Linked DNA regions of Homo sapiens. The protein of the gene in region 7 purifies or fractionates together with the protein of the main gene of each other region. This does not show direct contact. Each region holds a gene or a part of one and is shown on either strand. Other genes may lie near its edges. The genes, in order: ZNF496, PEX1, NAF1, ANKRD17, EDEM2, FRAS1 and HPSE2.

Region 1 (3,500 bases), on a different chromosome or scaffold from region 7:
AAGCTCTTCCCGCAGGCACCACACCGGTAAGGCTTCTGGGCCTCGTGGCTCTCTAGGTGCCCATCCAGGTCCTCGCTGTCGCTGAACAGCTCCCCGCACACCGAGCACTCGTGCGGCTTCTCCTGCTCCCTGCGGCTCCGCAGATGCCGGATGAAGTTGACCCTCCAGCGGAAGATTTTCCCACAGTTCGGACACACGTAGGACTTCTTGGAGGTCTGCACCTCGCCTCCGGCCTCGGTGCTGCTCCGGTGGGAGGCGGGGAGGCTGCGCTGCTTCTCTGTGGGGCTCCCCAGCTCTTCTGTGCAGTACGGGCCATGCTGGGAGTCCTCGTCCCCAGAGCTGGAGAGAACGATCTCGATGGTCACTTCTTCATCCAGGCTGTTCTCTAGAGATCGCGGGTTGCCGCCAGCTACAGGAAGGCAACATGCAGGTCAGCGACGCTGCACAGGCCACATCCCAGCCCCTATGACCGCGGCGGAGGAACACTCAGCTTGGAGTTTACAAACCCGTGTTTTTACAATGGTCCTCGGTGACCGGGGCGGCCTGGCCAGCCCTGCAGGGGCCACTGGTGTAGCCTGTGAGGAAGAAATCTTCAGCATGGGCCCCGCTGTGTCCAGAGCATGCTGGGCACCTTGCTCTCCCTCTTCCCAGCCATTTTCCCTTATCTCCACCCCCAACCCTTTTGTTCTCTACCCACGGAGACCACCCCATCCCCCCAAGCTCTAGGAGTCTGTATTTATCTGGGTAAAGCCTTGACCATTTACAGATCATGCACTTAACAAGGCATGGGGGAAAGCTCTATCAGGATAGTGAAAGGACTTGAGAGAGGAAGACTCTACAACCTACACATATCATGTGCTGGGCACTTGCATGCTCCAGGGACTGTGCTAGACTTGACATGCACATTCCTATTTGCTCCTGGACGCAACCCGATGACCTATTGGTTGCCATGTTTACACATAAACTAAGGTGATCTGTGCCAGGAAGGAGGGCTGAAATGCTACTCAGCCTTGCTAGGCTGCTCAACAGTCCCAGACTGCCCAGAGTCCTGGGTCCCCCACAGCTCCCCGGCTCCCAGTAGCACCGCATTTCTGAGGCCACAGGTGGTGATGGATAAAGCTGCTCTGGACTTCCTGCATCCTGAGTCTGTGATGTTGGGAAGGTGGAACCACGGGGCGGGGCTGGGTGGACAGTGCAGAGCCCGGCCTGAGGTCCCGGCTTATGGAGCAGAGCCCACCATACAGGTGGCCTGTTTCCTCACTGCTGTGAAATGTAGAACTCAAATCTAGAACTTGGGGGGAGTGAACCAGGCCCTCCCAGATAAGAGTAGGAACATGGTTAGTCTGGGCTTCATGACTGTGGGGAGGAGAGCCCTGGCTAGTCAGAGCAGCTCAGGACAGGAGAAGTTGGACAAACAGAAGCAGGGCAGGAAGACACAGAGGCTATGGAGAGCAGAGAGATAAAGGGCAATGGTGGAAGCGGAGGGGGCATTTGTCCCTCAGTCACAAGGGGGTCGGGGGAACATGAGTCTGGGAGTGGGTACTGAGTCTGCCAAGAACCCACGTAGTATAGGAGGGAAATCATCAGATGAAGACAGAGATTGTGTTTGTGTGTGTGCATGTGTTTTTAATTTTTTGTACAGATGGGGTCACATTATGTTGCCCAGGCTGGTCTCAAACTCCTGGGCTCAAGCGAGCCACCCATCTCAGGTGATCCACCTGCCTCAGCCTCCCAAAGTGCTGGGATTACAGGTGTGAGCCACTGCGCCCGCCGAGAGGCTATGTTTGACGCTTATCTCGACTCTTGGTTTTCGAGCTGCAGGAACCTCGTTCCAGCCAGACAGCTTCTCTGAGCTTGGGTCATCTCGTCTACAAGGTGAGAATGACAGTGGCAGCCCGTTGCTCTAAGCTGCTGGTGGGGCAGGTGAGGTCATGTGTATGATGTACTTTGTGGACCTCATGGGGTGGAGACAAGAGCAAGGTGTAACTTTTACCAGGCTGCCGATGACAAGGTACTTGATCAGCAGTTGACTTCTGTTAATGGACTTGGGTGGAAGAAGAAAACAAAGTGACAAGGTGGACCGCTAAGATCTCTTACTTGTTAACTGGGCGAGGAGATGGAATTATGAGAGCAGACAGTGCATGTTATGGGCGAAATTGTGTCCCCCTGAAAATTTACATGATGAAGCCCTAACCCATAGAGCCTCAGAATGTGATTACTTGGAGATAGGGTCTTTCAAGAAGTAATTAAGTCAAAATGAAGTCAGATGGTGGGGCCAATCCAAAATCACTGGTCTTCTAAGAGGAGGAGACTGGAGGCAGACTTCAACAGAGGGAAGGACCCTGTGAGGACACAGCAAGATGGGAGCCGTCTCCAAGACGAGAAAGGCCTTGGAAGACACCAGCTCTGCTGAAGCCTTGATTCTGGACTTGTTGCTTCTGGAATTGTAAGAAAGTAAGTTTCTGTTGTTTAAGTCACCCAGCCTGTGGTACCTTGTTATGGTAGCCACAGTAGACTAACATAGACTTTGGCACCAGGAAGTAGGGTGCAGCTAAAACAAAGACCAAAAACTGTCGAAGTGATTTTAGAACTAGGTCATGGGGAGAGGCCAGGAGAGTTCTGAAGTGCATGTTTAAAAAGCCTTGAGGAAGTGGCTGGTAGAAATACGGACGTTATAGGAAATTGGAGAAAAGGAGATCCTCCAATTATAAAGTGGCAAAGAATTTGGCCAAACCATATTCAACTGTTCTGTGGAAACAGAAATTGTAAGTAAGGAACTCGGATACTGAGCTGAGGAGGTATCGAAGCAAAGTGTCAAAGGCAAAGACTAGTTTTTTGCCGCTTATAGTGAAACGTGAGATGAGAGAGATAAACTGAAGAAGGAATTGTTGTAGCAAAAAGGAACCATGACTTCAAGATTTGGAAAATTCTGTCTATCCATACGGCAAAAAATAAGAAAGCGTGCACTGGAGAGACACCAAGAGTGTGGCTGGCTCATCATTTGTTAAAGAGATTCTGGGTATGATTCACGGATCCAATCAACCATCTCAACAGAAGCCAGGAACAGAGATGAGGTTATCCAGGAAGGTCTATGGAGGACACCCTCGTCTGACGGCCTGCAACCCTGTGGACTGCATGGAGGGCAGGGTTTCTGAGTATTATATACCAGCAGAAACACTGCCAGCTGGAACTGAAAGGAAAAGAGATGGGATGAAATAAAAGAAGGCTAGGACTTCTGGGATTCTACAAACTGGCCGATAGATCTATCTGGCTATGAATATGTACTATCCTTCAAGAAAAGGGAAGAATGACTCCAAAGGTGGCTCAGAGGTTACAGGACTGCCACTGTCATCATGGGACCAGAGAGTACAGGCTCAGGAGGTGAAGTCATTTCCTTCTGAGTTCCAAAGAGCAGGGCCAGTAGCCTGCTGGGCCTGGAGAACAGAGAACTGAGCCAGAGGTTATTGCTGAGCCTTAAAATCCCATGGAAATGACCTGCT
Region 2 (3,500 bases), on a different chromosome or scaffold from region 7:
AATTAAAAATGTACAACTATTTAAATAGAAAAAAAAGTCAAAATAACAAATGTACTCACCATCTTTAGTTTCCAGCTTAATAAATTCTTCCTCTGATATTACCAAAGGAAGCATGGTGGTAGTAGACTGCTGTAGCCATGAATAAAATACAGTTTTTATGTCTTCTTCACTTATGTCTTTAGGCTGCCAGAAAAAGGAATAGTAATGAATTATCCTCATATCTGAACTTAACTTTAACACCCTTATTTTAACATCTGATCTTCCTAATAAAGTGTAAGCCTGACCAAACAAATCCAATGAAGGATGTTCATGTTCTATAGGCACAGGTCTGGGATTTGACATTACAGTTAGCACAATGAGTGCAGTGTAGCCTGAAGAAACATCTGTTAGGCGGAAAAGTTTTAAATGCTCCTTTTCTCTATGCCCAGTGATACATCTACCATAATGTGGCTCACTCAATAACCATTCCAACCCCATTCTCCCTTTCCTCCCTCTACGATAAAGACAGGAAAACAAATTCCTTTTTCTTTGAGACAGAATCTCGCTGTATCGCCCAGGCTGGAGTGCAGTGGCGCAGTCTCCACTCACTGCAACCTCTGCCTCCCGGGTTCAAGCGATTCGCTTGCCTCAGGCTCCCAAGTAGCTGGGATTATAGACATTGCAGCTAATTTTTGTATTTTTGGTAGACATGGGGTTTCACCATGTTGGCCAGGCTGGTCTCAAACTCCTGGCCTCAGGTGATCCGCCTGCCTTGGCCTTCCAAAGTGCTGGGATTACTGGCATGAGCCACCACGTCTGGCCTAATAATCTATTTAAAAAAATTTTTTTTGAGATATTGCCTAGGCTGGAGTGCAGTGGCACAATCATAGCTCACTGCAGTGTGGAACTCCTGGGCTCAAGAGATCCTCCCACTTCAGTCAGCCTCCTGAGTAGCTAGGACTACAGGCATGTGCCACCACATGTGTCTAATTTTTATTTTTACTTTTTTTGAAATAGAGTCTCGCTCTGTTACCCAGGCTGGAGTGCAGTGGTGAGATCTAGGCTCACTGCAACTTCCACCTCCTCAGTTCAAGTGGTTCTCCTGCCTCAGCCTCCTGAGTAGCTGAGATTACAGGATTAGCACCACGCCCCGATAATTTTGGTATTTTTAGTAGAGATGGGGTTTCACCATGTTGGCCAGGCTGGTCTCCAACTCCTGACCTCAAGTGATCCACCCATCTCAGCCTCCCGAAGTGTTGGGATAACAGGCGTGAGCTACCACGCCTGGCTTAATTTTTTTTTTAATTTTTTTGTAGAGATGGGGTCTTGCTATGTTGCCCAGGCTATTCTCAAACTCTTGGCCTCAAGCAATCCTCCCACCTCAGCTTCCCAAAGTGCTAGGATTACAGGTGTGAGCCACTGGACCCCACCTGCAAAGATCTTTAAGTTCAATATCTCATTTCCTGACTCTACCAGTATCCAAAGAATTAACTGAGTAAAAAGTAAAACAGTCTAGCACTCTTTTAGGCTACAATATTAATACTGAAACAACATGGGACAATTTTTTTTAATTACAACCACGTGGCAAAATGATCAATCTCTTAAAAGCCAAAAATATTCATATTTGCATTGGCAAATATAAGTATTTGTGTTATCATTTATTAAAGATTTCTCAGCTTCTCAAAAAGTTAAACATAATTCCTAGGTATATCCCAAAGGAGCTGAAAAGAGGAACTCAAACAGATACTTGTACACCAATGTTCACTGTAGCATTATTCACAGCAGCCAAAAATGTGGAAACAACCCAAGTGTCCATCAACAGATGAATGGATAAACAAATGTGGTATATGCAGTCAATGGAATAGTATTCAGCCATGAAAAGGAATAACATTCTGATACATACAACACAGATGAGCCTTGAAAACATTATGTTAAATGAAATAAGTCAGATACATAAGACAAATGCATACTTCTACTTATATATGAAATATCTAGAATAAGTAAATTCATAGAGACACAATATACATTAGAGATTACCAGGGACTGGGGAAAGGAGTGGACGGGGAATTATTGTTTAATGGGTACCAAGTTTCTCTTTGGGGTGATGGAAAAGTTCTGGATATAGATAGTGGTGATGGTTGTACAATATTATGAATGTAATTAATGCCTTTGAATTATACACTTAAAAATGGCGAACATGGCATATTTTATGTTATATATAGTTTAACACAATAAAAAAAGATTTGTATCAAAAAGGAATACAACATTCTTATTACTTAGCTAAAGCAACTAGAAATCTTACAAAACGTGTAAAAGAATTTTGATGTAACATATATATTTGAACTCACTAAATTCTCTCTAGGTTGTAACTTTAGAGATCTTGGAATTTTAGGGGTAACTTCCACTGGAGTTATCCTGACTACGGCATGCATTTCTATATTTAGTCTCTTCCTCAGGTCATCTGGAATCTGAAATTTAAAAATAAACAAAAATATAAATATATTCAAAGCTTGGTTAAGAAATATTTCATAGCATAAATATTGATATATTAGCTTCTATGAATTTAGGTGAAATAACAGAAGCTATCATAATAACTCATAGTTGTCTCAGTCCATGCAGGCTGCTATATCAAAATATCCTAAACTGGGTGGCTAACAAACGACAGAAACTTATTTCTCACAGTTCTCTTTTATAAGAGCACGAATCCCATTCATGAAGGCTTCACCTTCATGACCTAATCACTTCCCAAAGACCACACCTCCTAATACGATCACCTTGGGAGTTGGGATTTCGACATATGAATTTGAGGAGGACAAAACATTCAAATACCAACGGTGTGACCAGATGGATGTTCAGATATTGTTATACCATGAACATTTCAATCCTCTCCCTACATTTCTTTCCTTTTCTTTACATAATCTTCAGAATTAGAGCTTTAAATGTATGTATTTGACTGTATTCACCAAACCCATCTTTTAAACTATGGCACATTTACATTCAAATTAAATGTTATTTCTAATCTTTGAGCAGCCTTTATTTGTGAAAGTTAACAACCAATGAAGAAGCTGGAATGGCCAAAACTAATCACAGACAATCTGCCTGATTGTCTGATTAAATGATTAGATCCAGACAGAAACTTAATCTAAAAAGCAGAGTAAAATTTCTCCCACCCCCTAATGAAAATGTTCTAAACTTAGATTGTGGTGATGGCTGTACAACTAGTATAAATATACTAAAAATGACTGAATTGTACACTTTAAATTTTACCTCAGCCGGGCGCAGTGGCTCACGCCTGTAATCCCAGCACTTTGGGAGGCCGAGGTGGGCGGATCACAAGGTCAGGAGTTTGAGACCAGCGTGGCCAATATGGTGAAACCTCGTCTCTACTAAAACTACAAAAATTAGCCAGGCGTGGTGGTGGGAGCCTGTATCCTAGCTACTCGGGAGGCTGAGGCAAGAGAATCGCTTGAACCTGGGAGGCAGAGCTTGCATTGAGTGGAGATCGCCACCACACTCCGGCC
Region 3 (3,500 bases), on a different chromosome or scaffold from region 7:
CTCCATAGGAGGCACCCATATCCCTTCTTGGTCATTCCACCCAACTTAGGGGATTCTGGAACTTCCATACTACCTGATTCAAGATAAAAGCAAAGGAAGTAATAGATTGTAAGGAGAGTATAAGAAACTGAATTTGGAAAAGTAGCACCTGAGACCTTTACTATGAGGTGGGCAAGCAGCTTTCTTTATATCTTTAAAACTAGTATATATTCTGTAGGTGTTCATATAAAAATTTAATCCAACTGATGCTTTATACTTGCCCTGTCATTGAGAAGTGGTTTTCTAGGTATCCTTTCACTTGGCTCTAGGTGATAATACTCACCATTTTTTACTCAAAGTCATTATATTTTTGCTACAAGATCTCCAAGGATTCCTATCACACACAGAGGTTAACACACACTGTAACAACAACGTGGTACAGCTATAATGTAGGATCTGCTGGGAAAAATAACTGACAAGCAGAGAAGATATAGAGTGCATGCAGTTCCCCAAATTCCATCCCAGCGTAGGCTGGGCTTAAATGTTCTGTGTGCACCATGGCAAAAGTTTCAGCGGCGTAGAAGGCCTGTTTGAGCCAGCAGGCTGGAGGTGCACAGACAATACAGCAAAAGGGAGAATGAGCTGTACTCTCCTCCCCCTCTCCACACACATACCATGTCACAAACTTACTAAGTTATCTAGAGGGGGCTAGGTAACTCCCAGTTTTTCTATTATCTAGGAGGGGACTAGGTAAATCCTAGTTTCTCTAAGTAACAATAAATATATCAAGGATCTCCAGGCCTAGGAACAATGCTGGCAGGCTGTGCCTGTGAAGGGCCAAGGTCTGCATGCTGCCACCTGGGAACAGCCTTCAAACAATGTCTCTCTAGGTGAGCCAGCTTTGGGCTAAACTGCCAAAGGAGAAAGGAAATGAGGAAATGAACCTTTACAACTATTCAACATTGTCTTTTATCAATCACTTTGTGCTTTTTTCAATTCCCATCAACAAAAATGAAGAAAATACAGACGAATAGAGTATTCTAATCTATTAGTTAGGCAAACTGATCATTTCAATCACTGTGTGTATTACTGTATCATAAGTTACCTTGAAATATGTCATGAGAACTGAGGGGGTGGGGAACAACACTCCATCAATATAATACAGAGTCCTCTAGAAAATCATCACATCCTACCAAACAAGACAGTAATATAATCGTTTAAAAAGGAATCAGTAAAAATTTCCTACCCACTGATATATGAGAAGGAAACAGATTTCACTAGTTCATCAAGGGAACTAGCAATTCTTAGGATTAAAGGGCAAAGGTAGGAATAAAAATCTGAGACTGTCCTCCCTTAATCAGTGGGGAAGGCAAAGGGAGGTGGAAGGGAAATGAACCTGGGCTGTAAACTCATCCATTTCAGCTTTGTGACTTTTTAGCAAGGTTTCTCAAGTTTTAAAATAGAGGTAATTTTACTTCCTTGCAGGGTTTCAGTGAACTTAAAAAGATAACATAAATATCACTGTAGCTGATTACTATCGTGTTACTGAAGAAAAGAGGGAAAAGATGTTCGATGGCTTGCTACTGAAGGTAAAACTAATTTAGTATTTAGATAAGACATGCTAATAATCTAAAAGGTACTCAGTTTCATATTCTGGTTATTGGTTTGTTTAACAAATACTTTCTAATCTCTACTCCCACTACTATTTTGGAGAATCATTTCAAGGCACTTAGATTTATAATCAAGTATTTTTTAAAAACTTGTCACAAAGTCTTTCAAAAGCATTTATAAAGCATTCTATGTAAAATTTAGAAATAGATTTAATTTTTGCCAACAGGCTTATGCCATATAACTAAAGTTAGAGGTGTAAATGTTATATTTTATCTGACTCCTTTCAAATCTAAATGACAGCTGAATATTAATATTAGTCACATTTACAGGTCTAGAAATTCAAATGTAGTGGGAAATACAAAAAAAATGTCTGTTTAGAGGTTTTAATTTAGCAAAGTGTTGAGTATTTTCAGATTAAAATTGTCTAAGTTAGGTACTAAGAAAAAAAGACAACTGTCATGAAAATCACAAATAGCTCCTTTCTTATTTGTTTGTATTCAACTCAATACACATTTACTTGGCACAAATAATTTACAAAGAACTGTACTAGATACAATGGGGAATATCAAGGTGAATAAAACTGTCCCTATTGCCAGGAAATAAATACTTACTTAGTATTTACATTCTTGATTTTAGAATGTTTATGTCTTCTGCCAACCAGTCAGAATTGCCTAGTTGCTGAGTAAAGTGCACAGTTTTCTACATTAAGGTGGACATGCAGGGTTGTTCCATTAGAAAGATGTTAAAAGGGACCAAATCTTATAGTAATTACTTGAATGCACATATTTGTAATTCCCCAGGATGTGCCTACAGTGACAATTCATTGCTGTCAGTGAAATATTTTTCCACTTGGAAAAGATTCCACACCGAGCTTCCACCTGAGGAAGTCAAAGTCTGAAAAGTCTGAGAGCCACTATTCAAAGGAGCTCACAAAACAAAAATGCTTAAGAGCTACTATACTATGGGAAGTCTTCTTCACTCAGCTGAGTATCTGGACGGTAGGAAACGATGTGTTATGCATTACGTAGACTCACTGCCTAGCAAGTTATCTGACAAACACTAGGAAAGAATTCTATATATGTGTATTTAATAACTCATGTGGCAAAGAGTAATAATCAGTATTAAACCAATTTACAGACAGATATGAAGTACTAAAGGAAATCAAGAACGTACTGAAATTAGAGAGCTCTAGATTGTCCATCAATTAAAATAAATAAACTCTTCTGAGAACTGATGGGGAAAGTCAGAAAAAAACAATAAATAAATAGAATAATTTGTAAGATTTGAAATGTTTTACAAACCTTTCCTGCTGCTTGTCGATCACTTTTAAAAATTACAGTCTCCTCATTAACTGGAGGTAGGTTAGTCATAGATTCAATTATTACTGAAAAATAAAATAGATTACTTCAAGATTTACTTATAAGAGAATGTAGAATTTTAATGAAAATCTAAGCTTTAATTCCAACATAATTTAAAAAAAAATTGAAGGTGGGATTATTACCTCATTAACCATTTTCTCTTCAGTAAACAAAGTCTACTTATTACCAAATAGCACTGGGAAATGTTTTTATACCTATTTTTAATACAAAAAGCTATAATTCTAAGGGAAAAAAATTAAAATGCAAATCCCACAGAAAATCTGAATCATCCATTAAAGATTCAACAAATTCAAGCTATGTACATATTCTCAAGTAATTTTTACCAAAAATAGTGTAATCACGTTTAGTTGTAAAACTGTTTTAGAAGAAATTAGTCTTCTTTCTCACTCTTAAAAATTCTTTTCTACAAAGCACTGTTTAGTTACTGGTATATGAAAAAGTTAAATAAAAGGCTTCACAAAAGCATCTTCCTATGAACAGAAGAAGTAAAAGTGCTAGAGCTCACAGTAATTTTTATCATTACATGAAAAT
Region 4 (3,500 bases), on a different chromosome or scaffold from region 7:
TGAATATAGTAGGCATATGTATAATCTAATGTTAAAATAAGTTATATAATGGGTAATAATTTTTAGATTTCTTAGATAAGTTACACATTCCCAGGATGAGGTGAACTTTCAAATATCAATTTTAAGGCTATTGATTATATTGGGAAAAATGAACAATGACTTGGATGTTAATGTGTGTGTTTTCCTTTTTTAAGGGTATGCCTTTTTCTGTGTATGGGAATGCAATGATTCCTCCAGTAGCACCTATCCCTGATGGTGCTGGAGGACCCATATTTAATGGCCCTCATGCTGCAGACCCTTCTTGGAACTCACTGATAAAGATGGTTTCCAGCTCCACGGAAAATAATGGCCCTCAAACGGTGAGGCTGATCATTCAGTGAATAAACAGTTGTTTTGTGTTTAAGAAATGCAAAGACAAATAGGATTCAGGTAACTCATGATAGCAAGAGAGTTTGGTGAATATGGGCAGTTGAGGAAATCTAATATAGCTGCAATATAGCAGAGGGCTGTGGGCAGTGGTACCAAAGGCAGGTTTGGGGCTAAAATTATGAAAGGTATTGTATATTCTACTGGGTAGCAGATAATAAATGAAAGATTTTAAGTTGCAAAGTGACTGTCATATGATTTTATACATTAAAGTTTACTAGTGGTGTGAAAAGACCATCTAAAGGTTATTTATTAAAGGTACTATAAATAACTCTGAGAATTCACATAAATGGTTGTATATTTTAGTTTAGTGTATGTTTAATATCTTTGATTTATTTTTCTTCCACAACCGTGAATCTATAAATGCTCAGGTAATGATTTTTTTTTTAAAGGTTGTAAATCAGATTCTGTTTGAGGGATAAGAGGTAGGAAAATAATAGAAAAAAGGTTTTTATCATTTTTTTCCATTAGTTCCTAGTATATTGCAAATTGAAGAGTACCTCCTTAGTTTTTTAAAAGTTTTATTTTAATAAAATATATGCTAGATATATATTTTGTAAAATGCATGCTCTATATTCATAGGTGTGGACTGGACCCTGGGCACCTCACATGAACAGTGTGCATATGAACCAGCTTGGCTGATGAGGATCAGCTTGTTAGCCTGCAGATTCCTTTTCATTTGGAGGAAATCACAAGTGGCCGAAAAAAAAAATTATGCTCCCAAATCATTCTACTGATGTGCTTGACTGAAGTGTGTAGGCTTTTTGCAGAAGATCTTACTAACTGACCTATTTTCTGTGAACATTTGTGACTGCCCATTCCCCATCATCATCCGTTTTACCTTAGTTAGCATTTTTCTTATCATTTTTCTTTTTTTCTTTCCCTCTTCCCCTTTGGACATAACTTTCTGTTGAAGCTGTTCTTTGGCTGGTTGGTTTTAGTACTGTAAACTGCTTCTGAGCAAACACGGAAATTTAGCAAAATTATGTAAACTTGATCCTGAAGTTTTAGAATGGCAAATAAATGTACAATTGTTTACATAACAGAAAAGGCTAAGCAGAAAGTAAATTTCAATATGTCAGTATAGAGGCTCTACTTTATGTAGACTTAAATTAATGTGAGATATGTACCTTCATATTCAGAAATCTGGATGTTTCCTTCATACATTAAACTATTAATAAGCATAACTTTTCTACTGGTGTAATTTAAGTATAAAGTAAAATAATGGGCATTATCATTGGATGTTTCCCCACATTGGCTTTTAAAATACCCATCTTGCTTTCTTTTTGGTTTATTTGTAGCAAGGCACATATAGAAGAAGAAATTTCTGGCTTTTCCATGTTGTTTTATTACCTTTTCTCACTTTTAAAACTAATACAGACTTATCTCCTCACTCCTTTTTCTCTCCTTACCTTTACCACTAATACCAGTAAAATTATCTTTCTGATAGTGAAAAGGTTCTGTCAAGATTTTCACTGTAATGGCTGCTACAGAGATGGACCATCTTCATCATCACCAGTGGTTTCTTCTAATTATAAAATGTTTAAACTTTCTGAGAATTTAAAAAGCCACCACTGTTCCCAGTCAGCATATACAAGCTCTTAATATTCTGTTTATTAAATAATTCAATGTACTATTTTATATTGGATGATATTGATTCTTAACATTGGCTTTTCAGTCATCAACAGTCAACATAAAAATTTCAATTTTCAGTAATTTAGTGGAAAATATCTTATTTCTTTTTTCAATTTTAAAGGCTTCCTGCTTTTTTACCCTTGTATATTATCAGTGAAAAGGATCAACAGTTAATTTGAGCCAAGTAATAAAAGAAATTCTGCATTTGTCACGAAGACAATTTATGGTAGACAGATAAATACACAGATTACAGTGTAAAGTCTCCATTTAACCTGTTTATAAAAGATACAAGGCCACACTAAACTACTCAGTGGGATTTATATATTCCATCCACTTGAAACAATAAACAGTAATGTATCCAAGAAGATTATGTGTCCTACCCTGTCTCATGGAAAAATTAATTATATGGTTGAAATGTAAAAGAAAGTAAGCATAAAAATCGAGTAATGTATATATCAATTTGTCTTCTTTTTTTTTAATTAGACATAAAATTTCACACTGGTAAAACATAAAAACTAACTAAAATTCATATAAATCACCTAGAGTTGATGATATTAACATGGTTCCTTGGTTGTCAAGTAAATCAAATGATTTCTTCCATCTGAGTAAAGAGTAAAGCCTGAGTAAAGAGTAAAAAGATGACTTCTCAAACATATCCAGAAATTTGTAAACAGTACACTCATATCTTTTAGTTTAAGAAGTGGTCTTAAAATATATAAATTTGTTTTTCCACCTATGTTTAATATGCCCAAATTTAAAGGGAGAGCTAAAAGACAGCCTACAAATAAATATAGCTATGAAATAAAATTATAGCACTTTACTAAAAAAGGGATGTAATAATGTTATTTAACGAAGTATTTTATATATGACTTGCCACTATTCTATACATAAAATTTTTTTTCTTAATTCTTTCCTGTGTTAACTAGGGTTATTTTCTATTTAAGGTAATCCTGCTGGAGAACAGATGCTATCCAATATTTATTACAACACATGAGTTGTGTTGTTTCACAATACTGAATTTCTTAGGTGAGGTATTTTATTTAAAAAGGAGGGGGAAAACTCCTATATTTTCTTGACTTCAAACCTGTGGGGCCAGGGGATATAGATTGAAATGCTCCGTATTTAGTCTTGGGGATCAGGCTTGTTTAGTACAATACCATGGTTTTAGAAGTCTGTACTAGGAACATTTTTAAAATACATTTTTTATATTTCAGATGTAATGCAGTGCACTTTTATTTGAACAATAAAAAAACCCATAACTTTTTGAGACCATGAAGGTCTTTTATTTTTTAATTTTGAAAATATGTGGTATGTGTATATGCAGACTACATCATTGTTTTAAGAAATGATTTAACTCTTGGACATTACACTTGGGTTAGTTCACACCTTAAATCCCCAAGTAGTTAATATCTCAATTATTGTATAATCAGTTTATACCA
Region 5 (3,500 bases), on a different chromosome or scaffold from region 7:
AGCAATTCTTTTGCTTCAGCCTCTTGAGTAGCTGGGATTACAGGCGCCTGCCACCATGCCCAGCTAATTTTTGTATTTTTTAGTAGAGATGAAGTTTCGCCACGTTGATCAGGCTGGTCTCAAACTCTTGACCTCAAGTGATCTGGCTGCCTCGGCCTCCCAAAGTGCTGGGATTACAGGCATGAGCCACTGTGTCTGGCCTCTCTCCACAGTTTGGTTTCCCCATCTATCAAATGAGAATCATAATTTCTACTTCCCTACCACATCGGGTTTTGGAGAGGCTAAAATGAGGTCAGGAAGGAGAAACTGCTTAGAGAACGTCCAACACTTTTAAAACGAGAGGGATTTGTTTTGTGGCTAAGCTGTGTCCAGGGCTGCAGGTCAAGCCTCCATGTTTTTGTCTAGTGGGGCAGTAACACCAGGCTCAGTAGCATCAACTGTACACTGTGTTCCCTTCAGGGTGTGGTGGAGGCTCTGAGGACTGTTCACACCCAGACACGTCACACTGTGCTTTCCATCACCTCTTGGCCATCTCACTTATTTATCCCTTTTCTTTCTTAATTTTTTTTTTTTTTTTTTTTTCAGACAGGGTCTTGCTCTGTCGCCCAGGCTGGAGTGCAGTGGCGTGATCATGGCTCACTGCAGCCTCTCGAACTTCTGGGCTCAGTTGATTCTCCCACCTCAGCCTCCTGAGTAGCTGGGATTACAGGCAGATGCCACCATGCATGGCTAAATTTTTTTTTGTAGAGATGGGGTTTCACCATGTTGCCCAGGCTGGTCTTGAACTCCCGGGATCAAGTGATCCATCTGCCTTGGACTCCCAAAGTGTTGGGATTACAGGCGTGAGCCACCACACCCGGCCTCTTTATCCTTCTCACATAGCACTTGCCTCTCCTTTGGGGGAGAGCTGAGGATAGCGGGTGAGCTAGGTTCAGGTCTCACTCATGGCTCATGGCTCATGGCTTGAGCGTCTCCTTGCAGACATTGTGTCCTGTGTGATTCATCCCTGGAGGAAACTCTGGAAACTCTGCCTAGCTGCTCCTCCTTTATAATTTAATTATTTTTGGTCATTGGTCATTTTATAAAAAAAGGTCAAGAAACAGGATTTTGTCACTCCTCTTCTTTTTATTACAGCCTGACTTTTTCTGAAATATTGCTTAGAGCCCTTCCTGGTTGTGACTTGCTCTCCCGCTGGTGCCTGCCAGATTGCAAGTTTCTTGTCTGTGGCAGACACAGTTGCTAGACCCTGTGGTTCTTGGAAGTGTCGACACCTTTGTTCACAGTTTGGTGACGCATAGGCTGCTCTGGAGTTGTTTGACCTTTAGGCCCAGAGAGGAAATCTCTGCCTCTGGCTGGTTGTCCAGTTCTCGTCTTGAACCAGAAGGCACTTGGGTGCCACTTGGGTGGGGCGGGCAGAGAACTGGACTGGGGCTGGGGTGGGCACAGGGGAGGCGTTCCCATCCCAGCTCTGTTTGACTCTCTCTGTGTGACCTGTGGCTGAATTACTTCTTTACAGGCATGGTTTTCCCTACCTATAAATCGAGGGTCATACTATATCCGTGGTTTAGTGGTTTATATCCTATTTTGCTTCCCTTTAAAAATAATTTAGCCCCTATACTCTTTATTTAAAGCAGAGATCTTTATTTAAAGTCTATGAATGGCTTTGTTTATTATTATTATTATTTTGAGACAGGGTCTCGCTCTGTCACCCAGGCTGGAGTGCAGTGGTGCAATCTCAGCTCACTGCAGCCCACGCCTCTTGGGTTCAAACGATTCTCGTGCCTCAGTCTCCCAGATAGCCAGAATTACAGGCGTGCACCACCACGCTTGCCTAATTTTTGTATTTTTAGTAGAAATAGGGTTTCACCATGTTGGCCAGGCTGGTCTCGAACTCCTGGCCTCAAGTGATCTGCCTGCCTTGGCCACCCAGAGTGCTGGGATTATAGGCGTGAGCCAAAAGTCTATGAATGGCTTTGAACGGGGCTTACTCTTGTCATTGTGCCACAAGCCCCACCACTTTCTGTGGCTTAAACCCTGCCTGCATCACAATAAGTTACCTGCCTGGGCTTTGAAGGCGTAGTGTAAAATAAATAAAAATAGGTAAAGCTCTCTAGCTAAAGCGAGTGTGTGTGGAGCACAGCCTGCTCCCTGCCCCCTCATGATGAGCAGGAACCCAAGGTTATGCAGAGCAGTGTTTGACAGCATCTGGGCTGGGTGGCTGCTCAGGGCCCTCCAGTTATGACATTTATCTTTCTCTGGCTCAGACTCTAGCAGGATACCCAGGAGAAAGAGGGAAGTGCTGGCTAAGGTCCCAGGCTTTGGGCGTGTATCAGAACTATCCCTATCCCCCTGCTCCTGTCCGGGATCATAATTTGTCGATTGTTCAGCCTTTCAGACCCCCACTGGCATGCCATATGGAACAGTGAACTTACTTCATGGCGTGAACCCAGGAGAGACCCCTGTCACCTGTACGGCAGGGATTGGGACCTTCATTGTTGAATTTGCCACCCTGAGCAGCCTCACTGGTGACCCGGTGTTCGAAGATGTGGCCAGAGTGGCTTTGATGCGCCTCTGGGAGAGCCGGTCAGATATCGGGCTGGTAGGTTCGCTGCTGCCCTTCCTGTTTGAGTCCCTGCTTACGAGGCCCAGGGCTCTGAGCAATAAGTTGCAGTCAAGCCAAGGAAAACTTAGGGTGACCTTGGGAGTGGTCCAGGATTTGGGCTCAGGACACCAAAAATAGACCAAGCCTCCAATTCAAGTTTGGCTTGGAGTGGGGAGGAGAGTGGGAAAGCACGTTTCTGGCAGGCAGCAGGGGCTGCATTCAGCTTTGACCAGTTGAGATTCTCTGATTTCTAGGAAGAGGGTCGTATGTTTCATGCCCCTGACTCACTTGACGGCTTCAGATCATCAGCTCGTCCGGCCTTCATTTTTAGCGTCTATCTGTATTTGCTGTGTTTCTTAGGACACCGGTTCTGAGAGATACTGAGTGGCAGTTGCATGAAAAAATGAGTCTTGGCCAATTAAGTTAGGGGAATATTAGATATAATATCCCCCCCTTTTTTGGAGAGTCAGAATGCACATGAGCAGAATAAAAATCCTCTAGTAAAGAAATCTATTCAACTTTGTTTAATTTAACATTTCCCAAACTTATTTAACACCAGAGCTTCCCTTTATCTTCCAGTACTATTAACCCATGGAAATTGAACACACTTTGGACCAGATGATCTCTAAGGTCAGTTTCAGCTTCTAAATGGGATAATCAATAAGATTAACAGTAATTGAGCCAAAGCCATCCAGGACATAACACTGGATTTAGTCAGAACTGGATTCAAGCCCTGGCCTTGCTACATCGAAACTGTGTGACCCTGAGCAAGTCACTCAACCTCTCTGGTCCTCAGTTACTTCAGCAGTAACGTTAATATATTAATACCAACTTTGCTGAGTCACTCTGACTTAGGAAGACTGCATTTAGGTCTAGGCACATTTTATGCAGTCTGGTG
Region 6 (3,500 bases), on a different chromosome or scaffold from region 7:
CTGGCTTATTTCACTTAGCATAAGGACCTCCACTTCCATCCATGTTGTAGAAGGATGGTTACCAGAGGATGGGAAGAGTAGTGGGGGTGGGAAATGGTGGTGGAGGGGGGAAGTGGGCATGGTTAATGGGTACACAAAATACTTAGAAAGAAGACCTAGTATTCCCTAGCACAACAGGGTGACTATAGTCAAAATAATTTAATTGCACATTTTAAAATAACTAAAAGAGTATAATTGGATTGTACATAACACAAAGGATAAATGCTTGAGGTGAGGTGATGAACACCCCATTTATCCTGATGTGATTATTATATATTACATGCCTGTATCAAAATATATCATATAATCCATAAATATATACACTTACTATGTACCCACAAAAATTTACTAAAACAAATCAGAGTAAGAAAAGTGGATGGAACTCTCTATAATAAATTCCATGCTTGGTCTTGGCCAAGCATTATATAGTGCCTTAGACCAACAGTGGTATCCCTGAGGAATGGCATTCTCAATGTCTCCCGGATATTCTGAAACCTAAGGAGAAAACTGCTCAAGAAAGGAATCAGGAGACAGGTGAAGGAAACTCAGAGACACTCTCCATTACCTGCGTCCTCACTGACAGTGAAAGCCGTGTTGCCCAGGGACACAGTCGAGGCATCGTTGGGACCACTAATGAGCACCTTGGCTGTCGCCACCCTTCCAATGCGGGCATTGTCAGAGGCATCTGCCAAGGCAATCTCAAACTCTTCTTCCTCTTCATACTCGCTGTCATCAATAAGCATGACATCACAGGTGGACATGGTCACACCAGGCCCGAATATCACACGACTCGCGGCAGACATCCCTCTAGATTTAAAATCAGAGCCTGATTCTAGAGCATAGAGGCTACTTCCCATAGCTGACTTAGGGACTGTGTAGCAAATTGCAGATACAATGCTGCTTGCATCTCCTGAAATACAAATGGCAAAAAACCAAAGCATTTGAATGAGTGCTTCTCAGATTTTAAAACCTCTGGTAAGTTAATGAGCTTGGTCCCTCCCAAACAGTCCATCACTATTTCTGTTCAAACTCTGACATAAAACCTTCCTGAATTGCAGTTTCTTTGAGCCTGTGGTATAAACCACTTGAGGATTTAATATACCCCAGATACTTCATCAAACAACTCAAAATGGATTTCCTATTCTGTGAATTTTGTGCTCTGTTAATTTGCAAGACTCATTGCCCACCATCTAAGACCACAGCAGGTGGAAAGATATGACACATATTTGGTACTTTAAGTAGGAAAGTAATTGTGTCCTGAAGGTAGTGCTATAAGCACAGTTCACTGCCTTTCTGAATAAACTTCTATACTTTAATTCCCAGAAAGAAACAGGCTTATTTAAAAAGAGAAAGACAAAACAAAATAAAATCTGCCACTGTATACAAATGACTTTACTTATTAGGGCTGCCACTTCCCTTGGTGACAGCCTGTTCTGGGCCTGGCTTGGTGGCCCAGAGCAATCAATGAGGCTTGCTTGTTTTCCAAGTGGCATTACCAAGGGTTTTTGCTATCTACAGTATTTGTTACACTAATACCCAGTCAGCAGATTCAAGAAAGAAACCCAAAATCATCATTTACAGTCTTGTTGTGCCTTTGAATGGGGGTTCAATTTCCATGTGTTTTAAAGTCTCAATCTTGCACAATCAAAATTCCATATGATGTTTATTTTTATTTCCAACTCCTCAAGAATTGCCCTTTTATCAACATGCACAATTACTATGTATCAGTCAAAAATAAAACAAAAAAAGAATTGCCCTTTATTTCTTACACATAGTTTATTTCTCATCTGAGCTCTACATATGACTGTCACATAGGGAAATTTTCAGCATATTTCTGTCTTCCAAGAATAAGATGGAAAGCCAGTCCTTATGAACTGTAACTTCCCTCCTTGACCAAGGTTACTAAATATTTTATGGATTGGGTGATTGATTAAGAATACTGATTCATGAATAATTTAGAAGGCTAAATATAACCAGTCTTCTAGTCCAATTTAAGAGTAAATGGGAGCTCTAACAACTTGAACTAAGAAAAGAGGCTTTCTGATGGTAGTCACTATGGATAGAATCATCATCAGGGTTGTTGTGGGAACCAAATGAGTTAATAAGTGGAAAGTACACATGTGAGTTAAGATAATGCATGAGATGAGTGCTTAGCACATAATAGGAACTCAATAAATGTTAGCAATTATTATAGCTCTTTGTCACCTGTGGAACCAACAGACCTTTTCTTTCAATAGGTGCAAACAGAAAACCAGCGCTCTCGTTAACCCAGTAGATCTTCTTGTCAAACTCTAATGTGGGTTCATCCTCGGTATCGTTGATAATGACCTTCGCCTGGGTGAATTCCCCTAACAGGGCATAAGCTGGCATGCTGAGCTCCACAGTGAAACTCTCAACATTTTCAAACACGTCATCATCGTTGATGACAATGGTGCAGGACTTGGTGTCCTCTCGCTCATCAAACTGGACCTGTCACAAAGGAACCAACAAGAAGTTAAGCTGTGCCTCAGCTTCCCCTGCTCTGCTTCCCCAGGGCATCATAGGAAAAGAGCATCCAAGTCCAGTGGGCAGAGCACTGACTGAAATAGCTGGTTCTCCCAGCCCTGGTTCCCTGCTGCATCACCTGGAACACCCAGCCACCTCTTCCCATTCTTAACCTGTACAGGAGGGCTGCTTTATTGTATAAGGACATGAAGGAGCAAAATCTCTCCTACCATTGGTGACTGGAGAAAAACATGTAGTAACTCTTTATAGCCTGTCTTATTATCTCACTTGGGGCAGCAACAGTCATCATTTGATGACTCAGTTCCCTTTCTGGAAGAACTCTGGCCTTGGAGTATGAAGTTCTGTTCTCAGATCTGGTTCTGTTACTTCCAAGCTGTATTAGGTTATGAAGCTTTACAAACATCAGATTCCTCATCAACTAAAGAAAAGTCATAATATTCCTACCTCATACGCTTCTTGGGAGGACTAAAGGAGGTCTTGTATATGAAGGTGTTAAGTGTATTTTAAAGTACCAAACAAACATAAGATATTATCATTAGTATCACCATATTACTTACACAATTAAAATTGACATAGAATTCCAGTGTACTGAATAATGGAATTTAAATTCATAGAAAATTACATTATAAACAAGGTAGACTAATTTTAACTTGATATTTTGACTACACCCTTTGCCATTAAAATGTGAATCAATTTAGCCCAGTACAAAACAGAGAAATTATTTTATATGTACACAATTGTGAACTTATAGGGACTTATTCTGGTTTTACTTTGTTTTTTTTTTTTTTTAAAAAGAAAGAAATTAAAAATCTTCAAGTGAAACCACGACTATGGACTTGCCCAAAACTGAAACTGCAGGAAATGAGCCTGGACTATACTTTGTGTAAACGGAGATAACTGAAATATGTACAAAAAACAGACATAAATGTCTGGGGACACACAAATCTGCAAAAATT
Region 7 (3,500 bases):
AGTTCATATCCTAACTGGAAAGACAGTCCTGTTTAGTTCTGTAACTACCTCAATAAAAAAGCTTACCCAGCAATCCCACCTATGGGTATGTATCCAAAATAGAGGAAGTCAGTATATCAAAAATATTATGCACACCTCAATGTTTATTTCAGCAATATTCACAATAGTCAAGATATGGAATCAACCTGTGTCCATTAAAGGATGAATGGATAAAGAAAATGTAGTATATATACACATGGAATACTATTCAGCCATAAAAAGAGTGAAATTCTGTCATTTTCAGCAACACGGATGGAACTGGAAGACATTATATTAAGTGAAACAAGCCAGGCACAAAAAGACAAATATTGTATGTTCTCATGCACATGTAGGAGCAAATGAAAAAGTGGACCTCACGGAGGTAGAGAATTGGTGGTAACCAGAGGCTAGGAAGGGAAGGAGAGAGGGAGGATAAAGAGAGGTTGGTTAATGGGTACAAAAACACAGTTAGATAGAAGGAATAAGTTCTAGTGTTCAATAGCACAGTAGTGTGACAATAGTTAACAGTGGCTTATTGTATATTCCAAATAGTGAGAAGAGATTTGGAATGTTCCCAACACAAAGAAATAATTTAAAAATTGTCATAAATATGTACAACAAATACGTACGATTTTTATGTATCAATAAAATTTTTTAAAAACTTAGACATTGGTATAGTTTCATAAAACTGAAGTTAGTCATGATTTATAAAATCAACATAAGCCATTCAAATCATTATTTATACAATGCTTTTCAATGCTTCATAATTACAATTATGCATACTGTTTTTACGTTAGATGACCTTAAAATCAGTTGTTGAATAAGACAGATACTACTCATTCAACAAGCATTTATAACACACTTACTATGTTCCTAGATTCTGAAGATATAGAATGAATAAAACAAATGGGGTCCTGACCCTACTCTGTGGTTTATCATGGCTGGCAGATATATAAACAAATGTTATCATCAATTTGATAAGTGCTATAGCAGAAAAATACAGTGCCATGCAAGGACAGAGGAGGCCCTAAGAAACCCTGCCTCAACATGTCAGAGAAGATCTAGAGAAAGGAGAAAAACAAGAGGAGAGGCTGGTATTCTTAACAAAATGAAACAAAATAAAAAGATGTAAAGGTATAAAAGAGTAGGGTATCTTCCAAAATTTACATTAAAAATTTACTGTACTTTGATGTAGTTAGATGTAATTAGAGGGCAAGGGGGTATCACTGCTTATTAGCTGCAAATTTAGGCAGGCGCAGACCCTAAACGTCATGAGTGCATCTGAAAGGGTTTGGATTTCAAGCAGAAGTGACTTGACCAGATGTTGCATTAAAAAAAAAAAAAAAAAAAGAAGAAGAAAAAAAACTATTCTGTAATCCTAGCACTTTGGGAGGCCGAGACGGGTGGATTACCTGAGGTCAGGAGCTCAACACCAGCCTGACCAACATGGCGAAACCCCATCTCTACTGAAAATACAAAAATTAGCCAGGCATGGTGGCACACACCTGTAATCCCAGCTACTCGGGAGGTTGAGGCAGGAGAATTGCTTGAACCCAGGAGATGGAGGTTGCAGTGAGCCGAGATCATGCCACTGCACTCCAGCCTGGCTGACAGAGTGAGACTCTGTGTTTAAAAAACAACAATAAAAAATAACTACTCAGGAATCTATATGGAAAGATTATTAGAGTTTGAGGCTAGCTAGATACCAAGAAATCACTTAGAATTAAAAACAGTAAGGTTGAAAATAAAATAAGGTTTAAAATAAAAATGAAAAGAAAATGGGATATGAGGGATAATAAGAAATCAGAAATTACAGTACTTAATAACGAATTGAGTGTGTGAACAAAGGAAAAGACTGATCTAAAACGGCTTCCATGTCTGGGTCTCAGGCAAAATGGTTATTGCATTACTAACCAAATTTGGGGGATAAGAGGAAACATAAGAATTTGGTTGTGTTACTAACCAAATTTGGGGGATAAGAGGAAACATAAGGATTTGAAAATGCTGAGTTATTTTCATAGTTAACAGAATTCAAGTTAAAACAACCATGCAACATGATCTTGCATTAATTAAAATAGGGTAAATTAATAAAATTGACAACATTTATTGCTATAGATATTAGGGAAAAAGATATACTAATACATTGCTGCCCTGAAACCTGATGAAATTGTTCTGAAAAAAATTTGGCAACAAATATAAAAGCCATAAAAATGATCATATACTTTGACCAAGAAACCCTACTTTTTGGAATATAGCCCAAGGATGTAATTCAAAAGAAATAAATAACCGATTTGTATAAAAATGTTTATAGCTGTGCTATGTATTACAAGCAAAATTTGGAAACAGTCCAATGCCCAACAGTGAGGGAATGCTTAGGCAGACTTTGGTGCACTAATGCAATGGTATATTTTATTGCTATTAAGAATGACAATATGAGAACTATGTAGAAATAAGGAAAGGGTCATGTGAAGCAATGAGTAAAAAATGCAGCACTCAAAATGATGCATATACAATGATCACAACTATGTAAAATTATATCTGTATAACCAGGAGGATTAGAAAGGAATACAGAGCTGGTAATTTAGAGTGCTGACATTTTTGTTATTGTTAGTTCAAGTTGCTGGGGATGTTTATGTGTTTCTAGTTATATTTCACTGTATATTTAGTACATACACATTAAGAGAGATAAATCTCTATTTTTTTTTTCTGACACATAAAAGAAAAATTCCTGATCAGTATCTTTCCTTGCCTTGCGTGATTTTTAAAAATGATTGTCAGATTCAGTCAAAACTAAATAGGAAAAGTGGTAGCAATTCTCTAGAATATCTGCTAATAGGCCTATTAAGACCTTTAATCTACCAGTATTTGTAGTGTTTTGCAACTTTTTAACCCAGCTTTGCTGGCCAAGATTTTGTAAAGCTTCACTTTCTACAAGAGGACACTGGTATAGAGTAATTTTTTTTTGTTTTAAAAAATATAAAATGATGCTATAAGATGCATAATATTAATTGTGGTTTTTCAAACAATGTTTCCTTTCCAACCCATCCTAGAGATTGTGATATACCTTCCCCATCCCACCACCCCCTGTTGACTATGGAAGGCCTAGAAAGATGAGAAAGATGGAGAATCTCTGTCTTAGAGTGGGTGAAGCCACTATGGAAAGAGTCCCTCCTTTTTTCTTAAGACCAAAATAAATAAATAAATAAATAAATAACCAAGAGAAATGCAAATACATTAATTCATTAAATGAACAATGTCATAAGAAAAGCTAAATAATCTGACCTACCCATCTAGGAGGGCGATGACATTCTTCCTCGGCCGCCCAATATTAGGGCCATATAAGCTGGCTCTGGAATAAATCCGGATGGGCTGCAACAGGCTCTTCAGCTGGATGTAATCCTTTCCCAACTGGCTGCCATTTACTGCCCGGCCATGCATGGTCCGATAGTTATTTGGCTCTAGATTAAAAGCAGACATGTAAG

The links.
Region 1: the proteins of HPSE2 (region 7) and ZNF496 purify together in Homo sapiens (affinity purification with mass spectrometry; one large-scale study listed by BioGRID and IntAct). This does not show direct contact.
Region 2: the proteins of HPSE2 (region 7) and PEX1 purify together in Homo sapiens (affinity purification with mass spectrometry; one large-scale study listed by BioGRID and IntAct). This does not show direct contact.
Region 3: the proteins of HPSE2 (region 7) and NAF1 purify together in Homo sapiens (affinity purification with mass spectrometry; one large-scale study listed by BioGRID and IntAct). This does not show direct contact.
Region 4: the proteins of HPSE2 (region 7) and ANKRD17 purify together in Homo sapiens (affinity purification with mass spectrometry; one large-scale study listed by BioGRID and IntAct). This does not show direct contact.
Region 5: the proteins of HPSE2 (region 7) and EDEM2 purify together in Homo sapiens (affinity purification with mass spectrometry; one large-scale study listed by BioGRID and IntAct). This does not show direct contact.
Region 6: the proteins of HPSE2 (region 7) and FRAS1 purify together in Homo sapiens (affinity purification with mass spectrometry; one large-scale study listed by BioGRID and IntAct). This does not show direct contact.

The regions. Positions count from the first base shown.
Region 1 is NC_000001.11:247,300,868-247,304,367, forward strand, and holds part of ZNF496 (zinc finger protein 496), read right to left. Parts: intron 410-3,500; coding exon 1-409. UniProt on the Homo sapiens protein: DNA-binding transcription factor that can both act as an activator and a repressor.
Region 2 is NC_000007.14:92,511,521-92,515,020, forward strand, and holds part of PEX1 (peroxisomal ATPase PEX1), read right to left. Parts: intron 2,448-3,500; coding exon 2,328-2,447; intron 184-2,327; coding exon 60-183; intron 1-59. UniProt on the Homo sapiens protein: Component of the PEX1-PEX6 AAA ATPase complex, a protein dislocase complex that mediates the ATP-dependent extraction of the PEX5 receptor from peroxisomal membranes, an essential step for PEX5 recycling.
Region 3 is NC_000004.12:163,142,891-163,146,390, forward strand, and holds part of NAF1 (H/ACA ribonucleoprotein complex non-core subunit NAF1), read right to left. Parts: intron 2,975-3,500; coding exon 2,892-2,974; intron 1-2,891. UniProt on the Homo sapiens protein: RNA-binding protein required for the maturation of box H/ACA snoRNPs complex and ribosome biogenesis.
Region 4 is NC_000004.12:73,073,799-73,077,298, reverse strand, and holds part of ANKRD17 (ankyrin repeat domain-containing protein 17), read left to right. Parts: intron 1-194; coding exon 195-359; intron 360-1,008; coding exon 1,009-1,068; 3' UTR 1,069-3,500.
Region 5 is NC_000020.11:35,133,837-35,137,336, reverse strand, and holds part of EDEM2 (ER degradation-enhancing alpha-mannosidase-like protein 2 isoform 1 precursor), read left to right. Parts: intron 1-2,387; coding exon 2,388-2,599; intron 2,600-3,500. Other genes in the region: MMP24-AS1-EDEM2 (ER degradation-enhancing alpha-mannosidase-like protein 2), read left to right, coding at 2,388-2,599. UniProt on the Homo sapiens protein: Involved in the endoplasmic reticulum-associated degradation (ERAD) pathway that targets misfolded glycoproteins for degradation in an N-glycan-dependent manner.
Region 6 is NC_000004.12:78,476,823-78,480,322, reverse strand, and holds part of FRAS1 (extracellular matrix organizing protein FRAS1 isoform 1 precursor), read right to left. Parts: intron 2,509-3,500; coding exon 2,262-2,508; intron 950-2,261; coding exon 605-949; intron 1-604. UniProt on the Homo sapiens protein: Involved in extracellular matrix organization. Required for the regulation of epidermal-basement membrane adhesion responsible for proper organogenesis during embryonic development. Involved in brain organization and function.
Region 7 is NC_000010.11:98,718,353-98,721,852, forward strand, and holds part of HPSE2 (inactive heparanase-2 isoform 1 precursor), read right to left. Parts: intron 3,477-3,500; coding exon 3,305-3,476; intron 1-3,304. UniProt on the Homo sapiens protein: Binds heparin and heparan sulfate with high affinity, but lacks heparanase activity. Inhibits HPSE, possibly by competing for its substrates (in vitro).